3 linked regions of the Homo sapiens genome follow. The protein of the gene in region 3 interacts with the protein of the main gene of each other region in a biochemical or structural test. Each region holds a gene or a part of one and is shown on either strand. Other genes may lie near its edges. The genes, in order: TCEAL2, ARK2N and SRPK1.

What was found.
Region 1: of the proteins of SRPK1 (region 3) and TCEAL2, one has a biochemical effect on the other in vitro, tested with the Homo sapiens proteins (one large-scale study listed by IntAct).
Region 2: of the proteins of SRPK1 (region 3) and ARK2N, one has a biochemical effect on the other in vitro, tested with the Homo sapiens proteins (one large-scale study listed by BioGRID and IntAct).

Annotation. Positions count from the first base shown.
Region 1 is NC_000023.11:102,124,020-102,127,846, forward strand, and holds TCEAL2 (transcription elongation factor A protein-like 2), read left to right. Parts: upstream 1-1,659; 5' UTR 1,660-1,787; intron 1,788-2,353; 5' UTR 2,354-2,426; intron 2,427-2,784; 5' UTR 2,785-2,811; coding exon 2,812-3,495; 3' UTR 3,496-3,693; downstream 3,694-3,827. UniProt on the Homo sapiens protein: May be involved in transcriptional regulation.
Region 2 is NC_000018.10:46,243,486-46,247,212, forward strand, and holds part of ARK2N (protein ARK2N), read left to right. Parts: intron 1-3,727. UniProt on the Homo sapiens protein: AMPK substrate important for exercise capacity and skeletal muscle function.
Region 3 is NC_000006.12:35,872,599-35,876,098, reverse strand, and holds part of SRPK1 (SRSF protein kinase 1), read left to right. Parts: intron 1-1,759; coding exon 1,760-1,866; intron 1,867-3,370; coding exon 3,371-3,500. UniProt on the Homo sapiens protein: Serine/arginine-rich protein-specific kinase which specifically phosphorylates its substrates at serine residues located in regions rich in arginine/serine dipeptides, known as RS domains and is involved in the phosphorylation of SR splicing factors and the regulation of splicing.

The sequences.
Region 1 (3,827 bases), on a different chromosome or scaffold from region 3:
TTTTAATTTAGATAAAATGACATTTCTTCAAATTTAATGATACTAATTTTGAATCCCACATTTTTGTGTATATGTTTTAAAAGAGGAGAAATAGTTGTTAATACTTTGGCTCCATTAGCAAAATAACTTAGCAAATAGTTACTGAAGACAGCTTAAAATCACTATAATTAGATGATTAAAACAGAAAATCAGTTCTTTTCAACTGATTTGATATTATTTTCATCAAATTCTTGAATAATTATAATAATTTTATGGAAGTTTATACTGATGAAATTGAAACACCTAGCCTCGATAATTCAGGAAAAAAATTCAACATTGAGGACAGAATTATTGGTGATGTGGTGATAATGACGAATACACATATTGATAGAGCAAAATACTGTAGGAAGATCAAGGTTTTACTAAATGAAGAAAGATGTGTAGCAGAAATATAATCAGAATTGCTTGTGTAACACACATAATTCATAATCCTGTAATCATGATAAGGTATTTTGCAAATCAAAATAAAAATAGTTGTTGCCCAGATATACACAAGACATACACATACATATGTACACACATATACATCTATACATATATGTGTGTATAAATAAACATGTGTATATATACATATACATGTCACTATACTGTAGAAGCTAAAATATTGGTGATTCTTAGTTTTTGTGGGTGGTGGCTTCACGAATGTGAAAGAAAAGGAAAGAAAAAAAAGACAAAGGATGGGAAGGGGAGGAAATAATAGGACGGGAAAGAAAAGGGAAGGAAGAGGGACAAGCAGGGATCGATGATAAGGGTGTGTTGTAAACCAAGGACTATGATGAATTTGTGCATCTGAAATTCATATTTAAAATGTTTTAATGCTTTCTTTTCTACCTGTCTGACATTCTCTCTCTATGAAAACTGATCAAATGTTGGAAGGTAAGTTTCAAGTGTGGAGAGAGACCAAGGGAGATGGCAAGAAGGAAGTTGGTAAATCAATTTGGGGTACACGGGCTTTGGGGTCCCTCAGGGACACTCAGGCGGTGATGTCCAATAGACAGTTGGCAAAGCTGATATGAGACACGGAGAAGGGAACAGCCTGGAGCTGTAGATCTGGGAGTCATCGGTGTTTACTGGAAATGAATGAGATCACACAGGGAGAGACAACTTGAGGACTGAGGAGAGAGGAGGCCCAGGACAGAACCCCAGGAACACCGCCACTCAAGGTGGCAGCTCAGCTTCCTGGCAGGCACCACTACCCCCCGGGCTCTGGAGTCAGGCAGAGCCGGTATTGAAAGTGGGCTGTGGAGTTCTGGGGCTGAGCGCTCTTGGCAAAGTCCGGTACCTCTATGATCAGCTGTCACACCTGGCGATAATGGGCATCAGAGAGATATGCCTTGCGAGGATGCTGTGAGCTGCGTCAGGTAAAGCACCTAGGGTCAGAAAGCCACCTCTCCTCCTCTTCTCCGCGACCCCACTTTGCTACACAAACGCACCGAGACTCCGACCGTCCCCAGCCTCCGGTCCCTCAGGGATGGAAGGTGAGGTATGTCAGGAAAGAGAGGGGGGCCCAGCTCCAAGGTGAGGTGTGTCAGGCAAGAGCGGGGGCAGAGCTCCGGTGACGCGGTGCTCACGTGACCCGCCCGGCGCCTACGTGGGCACCAGCCCCCGCGCCCGCCCGCCAGCCCGCCCAGCGGTCGGGTCCGGGCGCCCGCGCAGAATCAGCTGTCTGAGCTGCCCAGGCGGCGGGGGAGCAGCGAGCGGGCTTCAGCGAGCCGCAGGAGGCACAGGCCTGTCCTGGGTCCCCGCAGGTCAGTGTGAAGGCGTGCGCTGCCGGCGGACCCTGGGACAGGGGTGGAGGGGGCTGGCAGTAGGATTGGGGAGGGGGCGGAGAAGGGATCCGGTAGATTGGGGAGGAGGGGGATGCGGAGTCGCGGGGGCGGGGGCAGTGGAGGGAGAACCCCCGAAGCAAGCCTGGCTCGCCTTCTCGACGCCCCCTTGCACTGAGTCCTCCATCCATTTTAGTGCTGGAAATGGGGGGTGGGGGTAGCGACCCCGCAGTGCGACAGTGAAACGTAGACATATTCTGGAAATAACCCCTTCTCACAATCTACACCCATGGAAACACTTGATCTCCGCAAAAATGAGGTGGCGCTGGGGCAGGTTGCCTCCGGGGAAGGGGGACACAGAGACAAACGCAGTTTGGAAAGCATCCTGGTTTGGTGCCCGAGGCCTGGAAAGAAATGGCGGCTGGGGTGCGGGGGAGGTAGGGGAGGAAAACGGTGGGTAAGCAGGGCCTGGACTCAGGAAAGGGAACCGAGTCCCTGTGAGCCCGCTAAGCGCGCAGCCCCTGCCCCTGTCTCCTGTCTGTCCGCAGGTCTGCGCGTCTGTTGTTCCCAGCGCTCTGAGAGGCCTGAAAAGGAAGAGCAACCTGTCCAGAATCCCCGCAGGTCCGTGAAAGCAGGGGGCTGCATGGACAGGGGCCCACAAGGGTTGAGAGTGTGGAGGGCACAGTCAGGGCCGAATTGGGGCCCCTGCCCATCCCCTTACCTACATGAACACACACCTTACCAGGCTGAACCAGTGCAGAGAAGGTGGCAGGGCCTGCCAGGGAACAGCTGGCTCACGTGTGTGGGAGGAGTGGTGGGCTACGTGGTGGGCAGAAGGCCCTCTTGGAGGCCCAGTCAGCTTAGGGGAACCCTCACCAGGGGTGAGATGCAAGTAGTATCCAGACCTGCATTCCACCCCATGCCCTCAGTCTCCCATGTCTCCTCTTTGTCTCCTCTTCCCTCCACACCCATCCCCCAGGAAAGGAAAAGGAGGGGAAATCTCGACATGGAAAAACTCTTCAATGAAAATGAAGGAATGCCTTCGAATCAAGGAAAGATAGACAATGAAGAACAGCCACCGCACGAGGGAAAGCCAGAAGTAGCTTGTATTCTGGAAGACAAGAAGTTAGAAAACGAGGGAAACACAGAAAACACGGGCAAGAGAGTTGAGGAACCGTTAAAGGATAAAGAAAAGCCAGAGAGTGCGGGAAAGGCAAAAGGAGAAGGAAAGTCAGAGAGGAAGGGAAAGTCAGAGATGCAGGGAGGATCAAAGACAGAGGGAAAGCCAGAGAGAGGGGGAAGGGCAGAGGGTGAAGGAGAGCCAGACAGTGAAAGAGAGCCAGAGAGTGAGGGAGAGCCAGAAAGTGAAACAAGGGCTGCAGGAAAGCGCCCAGCTGAGGATGATATACCCAGGAAAGCCAAAAGAAAAACCAACAAGGGGCTGGCTCAGTACCTCAAGCAATATAAGGAAGCCATACATGATATGAATTTCAGCAATGAGGACATGATAAGAGAATTTGACAACATGGCTAGGGTGGAGGATAAAAGGAGAAAAAGCAAACAGAAATTGGGGGCGTTTTTGTGGATGCAAAGAAATTTACAGGACCCCTTCTATCCTAGGGGTCCAAGGGAATTCAGGGGTGGCTGCAGGGCCCCACGAAGGGACACTGAAGACATTCCTTATGTGTAGTGTCCCTGGCAGGCATTTGTCAGGCCATATGTTTTAACCTTATGGTAATACTTTGCTTTAGTCGTTCCTCCTGCTACCAGTAGCGTTTTGACCCACCTGCCAGTGTTTGCTTGCTCTATGTTTCAGTAGCAGATTTTCACACATGTGCATTGCAGAGACGTCATGATTCGTGGAAAAATAAAGCAGCTTATAATATCATCTACAGAATCTGTCTGTTTTTGTTAAATACATGAAAGGTTAACAGTGGTTTTCTGAGTTGTGAGCTAGCAGGTGATTTCATTTCTTTGTTTTCTTTCTACTAATCTTTCTTTTCCCAGAGAACACAAATTACT
Region 2 (3,727 bases), on a different chromosome or scaffold from region 3:
GCCTTTTTCCAAGCAATTAGATGATTATCTTGCATCCAAAATATATATTTAGTTTTAGTTTTAACCTAGGCAAAAGACTTGAACCACATGCAGGGATTAAAAAGTAAGTCGAAATTAGAGAAGCTACTGATCAACAAAAGACCTGAATTTTCCATTTCAATTCTTGCCATGTGTTTGCTTTTTTTAAGTTGATGCTGGAATTGAACACTGTAGTGGGTGATTTTGAACCAGTGGCCACTTAGAAACTGCATGTCCTCAGGTAAATTATATAAAGCCTCAGTTTTCCCTATCTACAAAACTGGGGCACAACCTTTATAGTATCTACTCCAAAAGGTTATTGTTACCACTAAGTGAAATACAGTGTGTTTACTACGGAGGACAGCACATAGTAGGCCCTCAGAAATGCTAACCAGCATTATGTTAATATGCTGAAGTAGACTGAGTAAGGAAGTGATTAGTGGCTCAGTCACTGGATTTCTAATTACTCTCTTGCACTGCAACGAGTTGCTCTTGCTACAAGTACTTCTTAAATTTTGCCAGAGCGTAGAAATTACCCAGTGTGTTTATAAATATTCACACTCCTAGGTTTCTCCTGATGATTCTGTCAATAAATCTGAAATGGTTTCTGGGAATCTCTTTTTAATAATAGCCTCAGGTAACTCTTGTATCCAGCATGTTTAGGAAACTGTATTAATATATCTGAAAATGGCTTCATTTTTGTTGCTAGTAAGGGCTCACTGCAAACAAATGTAGTTGGGGCAAGAAGAAGCAGAAGTCTTGGTGAGGAAGGCTTATAGCTGTGGTAAACTGAACTTATTTAGGATTTTTTTCCCTGGGAAGTTAAAACTTTAAATACCTTATCTTTTCCATCAGCCTTCTTGTCAAGAAGGTAGGTTCTGAGCATTTTCCCCATCCTTACAATAGGGATGGTAATCTTGATTTGTCCCTAACATGGTGGCAGTACAGAGAAATGAATCCTGGGTTTCCTGTTCCTAGTGTAGGGTTTTTAATAATTAGACCAGAATGGCCATGTTTCAGAATCAGTATAGTGAAGGAGATGAAGTATGGTCATGTTCTTCATGTTTATCTGCATCAAATTGATGGTAAGAGTTTAGATTTTTTTTTTTTTTTTTTTTTAAGAGGGAGTCTCCAGTCACCCAGGCTGGAGTACAATGGCACATTCTGGGCTCACTGCAACCTCTGCCTCCCGGGTTCAAGTAATTTTCGTGCCTCAGCCTCACAAGTAGCTGGGATTACAGGTGTGTGCCACTGCGCCTGGCTAATTTTTGTATTTTTAGTAGAGACAGGGTTTACCATGTTGGCCAGACTGGTCTCGAATTCCTGACCTCCAGTGATCCGCCTGTCTTGGCCTCCCGAAGTGCTAAGATTACAGGCATGAGCCACCACACCCAGCCAGATTTTAGATTTTTGAGCTCTTCCTTCACTCTTTTTTGTTGTTGTTGTTGGAGATGGATTCCAGCTCTGTCGCTCAGGCTGGATGCGGTGGCAGTCTCCGCTCATTGCAGCATCTGCCTCCTCGTTCAAGTGATTCTCCTGCCTCAGCCTATCCAGTAGCTGGGATTACAGGTACCCGTCACCACGCCCCGTTAATTTTTTTATATTTTTAGTAGAGATGGGGTTTCACCATGATGGCCAGGCTGGTCTTGCCCTCCTGATCTCAAGTAATCTGCCCACTTCTGCATCTCAAAGTGCTGGAATTTCAGGCGTGAGCTACCATGTCCAGCCCTCTTCCTTCACTTTTTAAGGTTGTTTAACGTGCTGTTTAAGGAACTAAAAGTAGGCTGGGTGCTGTGGCTCACGCCTATAATCCTGGCATTTTGGGAGTCCGAGGTGGGCAGATCACGAGGTCAGGAGTTCGAGACCAGCCTGTCCAATATGGTGAAACCCCATCTATACTAAAAAAAATACAAAAATTAGCTGGGCACGGTGGCGTGGGCTCCTGTAGTCGCAGCTACTTGGGAGGCTGAGGCAGGAGAATTGCTTGATCCCGGCAGGTGGAGGTTGCAGTGAGCCGAGATTGCACCACCTCTCTCCAGCCTGGGTGACAGAGTGAGACTCTGTCTCAATAAAAAAAAAAAAAAAGAAAGAAAAAAAGAACTAAAAGTAGTAATTTGCTGTTTTTAAAGCTAAATGAGTAGTGACTTATTTTTTTATTTTTTTTATGCCTAGCATGCGACTGTCATACAGTATGTAGTATTACTTTCTCTTCAGTGTGTTGCAAAGCTCAGGCCTAGTTCTTACCCAGTGGATTTACAGTTTAAAAAGTAGCTGGATTATTTCCTTTAAAGACAGAAAGAAACTGTTTTCCATGATAATTTAGTTACTACTTTTTCTGTGCTTCTTTTTCTTACCCTATTTTGATAACTACCTTTTCTTGGTAACTTTTTCTTACCCTTTCTTGTTGAAAAGGTCTGTAGTGGGAGGACAAAATTTAGAATTTTCTCATATAGTGAAAGAAGTTATCTTTCCAAAGACCTACACAGGCAGAGACCTACACAGAGACAGCCAGCTGTCACAATAGCTAAATATAAGTGCTCTGCTTTATTTTCAGTTTAATATATGGTAATTGCGGTATTTACATTTTTCTCTACAGGGCTTGTTCTTGTCTTAGAACTGGAAAAGATTACTACCACTGACAGTATTTGAAGAACCTCATAGCATCTTTGGCTCACTTTTCTGTATGCTTTAGGCACTGTTCTGCCATTGGAATCCTGTGAAGTCCTCCATGGGGGGTGAGGCGGGGTGGGGAGGGGCAGAGCAGAAAAGGCCCAAAGGCCAGAGAATGTCAGGTTCTATACTGGAGCTCCCAAAGGAATGTGTGGGATGCTGAAGAGGGTTACAGTGACAGAAAAGGACTAATGGTCCTGGCTCTGAAATAGAAGAAGGAAGAGGCAGAGGCATCCCAGAATGCCTTTGGTGTCTCTTGTAGAGCACGGCATCTCATTGCCTTGGTGTGGGTCCTAGCTGATTTGTTTTCTGTGTGGCACAATTTATCTAAGGCTCTGACAGGAAATTTGGCAAATGTCTCACACTATTAGTCTAGGAGTTGTTAACATTCACGAGGCAGTCTGTATTTAGCACCCCCATCACTTTCTCATGCCTCTTATCTTGCACTAGTATATTGACCAAGCATTACAGATAAGAGCAGACCCTAGGCTAGGCGCGGAGGCTCACACCTGTAATCCCAGCACTTTGGGAGGCCGAGGCGGGTAGATTACCTGAGGTCAGGAGTTCGAGACCAGCCTTACCAACATGGCCAAACCCCGTCTCTACTAAAATACAAAATTAGCCTGGCGTGGTGGTGCATGCCTGTAATCCCACCTACTCAGGAGGCTGAGGTGGGAGAATCGCTTGAACCCGGGAGGTGGAGGTTGCAGTGAGCTGAGATCACATCTTTGCACTCCAGCCTGAGCAACAAGAGCAAAACTCCATTTCAAAAAAAAAAAAAAAAATAGCAGACCCCAATTTAAAGTGACCAGTTTTAGCATATCATCTGGGTTTTGTAACCATGTTAAATACCAGCAGGTTTGGATTGCAATTTTTATGGCAAAAATTGCACTACCAGAATTGTTTGGATTATCTAACAATGTGGAAGGAATATTACTAGTTTCTAGATCCATAATGAATGAATAAAGTTAGAAGAATCTGAAATATTGGTGATGGTACCTTGTTTTTTTTTTAAAAGACAGTATAAAATTAACAAAAG
Region 3 (3,500 bases):
TTTTTTTTTTTTTAATTTAAGAATCCAGGCTAGTTGTTTTATGCCACCTTAGTTTGGATTTGTTTGATTGTTTCCTCATGATTAAATTCAGGTTAACCGTGTTTGTCAAGCATAGTACATGGATTATTGCATTAGAATATGCATTCGAATGCATATTAGTATATTGCATTAGAAGGCACATGGTGTGAATTTGTGCTTATCATTGGTGGTAGTAAGTTTGATCACTTGGTTAAGGCAGTGCCTTCCAGATTTCCCAGTTGTAAAGGTACTTTGTTCTTTTTGTAATTAATAAGCAATCTGTGGAATGATATTTTGACACTGTGACAATCCTTTTTCCCGACAGTCTTTCACATAGTTGTTTTAGTATTCACTGATTCTTACCTGAATCAGTAATAGTATACTATAGTGATTGTAAAAATGGTGATTTTCTATTTCTGTAATCCCTTATGTATTTATTATTTGGCTTTCTTCTCTAAAGAAGATGTTTCTCTTCCTCCTGCCTCCACACTTACTTTCAGATCAGTGTGGACTTGTTCTGTTTTTAATTCATATATTAACTCATAATTTTATCCTTTATAGTGGTCTGGCCGGGCGCAGTGGCTCACGCTTGTAATCCCAGCACTTTGGGAGGCCAAGGCAGGTAGATTATGAGGTCAGGAGTTCAAGACCAGCCTGGCCAATATGGTGAAACCCCATCTGTACTAAAAATACAAAAATTAGCCCAGCGTGGTGGTACACACCTGTAGTGCCGAGAGGCAGAGGTTGCAGTGAGCTGAGATAGTGCCACTGCACTCCAGCCTGGGCAACAGAGCCAAGACTCTGTCTCAAAAAAAAAAAAAAAAAAGAAGTCTCCATGTTGGCTGGTGACATCCTTTTCAAGATGGTTCCTGTTTCTTCCTGACAGGTTCTTTTATTTGTTAGAACAGCAAGGTGTTCCAAGTTTACCCTGTTATTTTTCCTACCTTGGATTTGGCCATTTTTCCAAGGAGCTCAGGCTTTCCTTTAATGGAGAATGTTAAAGTCTGAGCACTAGACCATTACTATATATGTATGTCTTAACTTGCATGTAGAAGCCAGTGGGGGTGGAAGACATCAAGATACTACTAAAATCTCTGTAGTGCCCTGCACAATTTTAGACTCAGAGTATTCCTGCTGTGTGGTGTCATCAGGTTGTTCATACATAAGGACAACACATGGTGGCACTGGAATCAAGATTAGTTTTGTAAAATACAGAGCATTAAGCAAGTTTCCTATTTAAAAAAAAATGTTGGCATTTACGTTTTTGAGGTTTAAGTCTTTCTTGTACATTCATCTCTTCTATAGTTAAGGAATAATTTGTTTTTCCTTGCTTTGAAGCTGTGAGAGTGGGAATTTTTACCCTGGACACCAATTTTGATATTAGGGAAGAAACTAATTTACCTGAAGCTAATCAACAGCTTGAGGCTTGAGCCTACTGCTTTCTTTCACTATTTGCATATGTAGGTTTCACTTTTTCTTTTACCATTGAGTATTTTAATGTACATAATAATATTGATGAAGCCAGCCGCCCACAATTTAATGTTTCATGAATGCTTTCATTGACTATAGCATTAGACTTTGAAATTTTAGAATATTAACAGCTACATATTTATTCATTCAAGCTCTGTAACTTTTTATACTGAAAGAAAATAATACATAACATTTAATAGGGTGGAATTCACAGCTTGTCTTGCCGTGTTCTTCTTTTGTGCCGTTTTTTCCCTCCTTAATGAATTCCTAGATATCTGCATGGTATTTGAAGTTTTGGGGCATCATCTGCTCAAGTGGATCATCAAATCCAATTATCAGGGGCTTCCACTGCCTTGTGTCAAAAAAATTATTCAGCAAGTATGTATCTTGAATCAGCAAGTATCTTAGTCTTGACTATGTAGTGATTTTTTAATATTCTTGAAGTGTCAGGACTTTATTTTTTCCAATAGAATTTTTGTTTTAAGGCCGGGTGTGGTGGCTCATTCCTGTAATCCCAGCACTTTGGGAGGCCGAGGCGGGCAGATCACGAGGTCAGGAGATCAAGACCATCCTGGCTAACATGGTGAAACCTCCTCTCTACTCAAAATACAAAAAGTTAGCCGGGTGTCTTGGCAGGCACCTGTAGTCCCAAGCTACTCGGGAGGCTGAGGCAGGAGAATGGCGTGAACCCAGGAGGCGGAGCTTGCGGTGAGCCGAGATCACACCACTGCACTCCAGCCTGGGCGACAGAGCGAGACTCCGTCTCAAAAAAAAAAAAGAATTTTTGTTTTAAAATTCTTTGTTTTAAAAAGTAAGTTATTGGCTGGGCGCGGTGGCTCACGCCTGTAATCCCAGCACTTTGGGAGGCCGAGGCGGGCAGATCACCTGAGGTCAGGAGCTCGAGACCAGCCTGGCCAACAGTGCGAAACCCCGTCTCTACTAAAAATACAAAAATTAGCCGGGTGTGGTGGTAAGCGCCTATAATCCCAGCTACTCGGCAGGCTGAGGCAGGAGAATCGCTTGAACCCGGGAGGCGGAGGTTGCAGTGAGCTGAGATCGCGCCACCGCGCTCCAGCCTGGGCGACAGAGCAAGACTCCATCTCAAAAAAAAAAAAAAAGTTAATTGCTAAAATTAAATATTTCATTCAACCTTTAGAATTTATTGTGCTTATTCTCTTTTTAAATGTTTTAGCATAACCATTTTCCCCCAGGTTTGCCTCCTATAATAATTAGAAAGGGAAGCTGAGGTTCCTGACTTGGGAACATTGGAGCCCTTATCCAGAAGTTCTGGTTGCAAATAGTAATTTTACATGAATAGATAATTGCTATGTCAGATTATTGCCATCTCTTTATACAGCATGATTCATAGGCATTTTCTAATTTTCTAAAGAGCCTTCAATATACAGTATAGATTTTACCATCAGGAAAATATTAATACTTCAAGGTGCAAAAATTTGTTTGGATTATATGTCCTGGAAAGAGCTCCAAACTGGGCAGCAAGAGACCTCAATTCTTCCTCAGTGAGGAAATTTGAATTAAAGATATCTAAATGTCTGTCAGCACCTACATTACAACACTTAGAGGGTGTGTGTGTGTTGAAGTTTATTCTCAGTCTTTGCATTGTACATAGTTGAAGAATATCTCCAAATAGAATCAGCTTTGTAAAACATTGAAGAATTTTTTATTGTAAATAATTTCTTGCCTTTTTCATAGTTTAATCTTTCTGAGAAAGTTTATTTGTGCTTTTTTAAAAGGTGCTTTTATTCTCTATAGAAAACGCTATCATATCTTTTTTTTTTTTTTAATGTCATGTTATAATCTCTTACTTCTCCAGAAAGCCTGTATTTTGTGTTTGCAAGTCTGCCACTCTATTTCCATTCAGGTGTTACAGGGTCTTGATTATTTACATACCAAGTGCCGTATCATCCACACTGACATTAAACCAGAGAACATCTTATTGTCAGTGAATGAGCAGTACATTCGGAGGCTGGCTGCAGAAGCAACAGAATGGC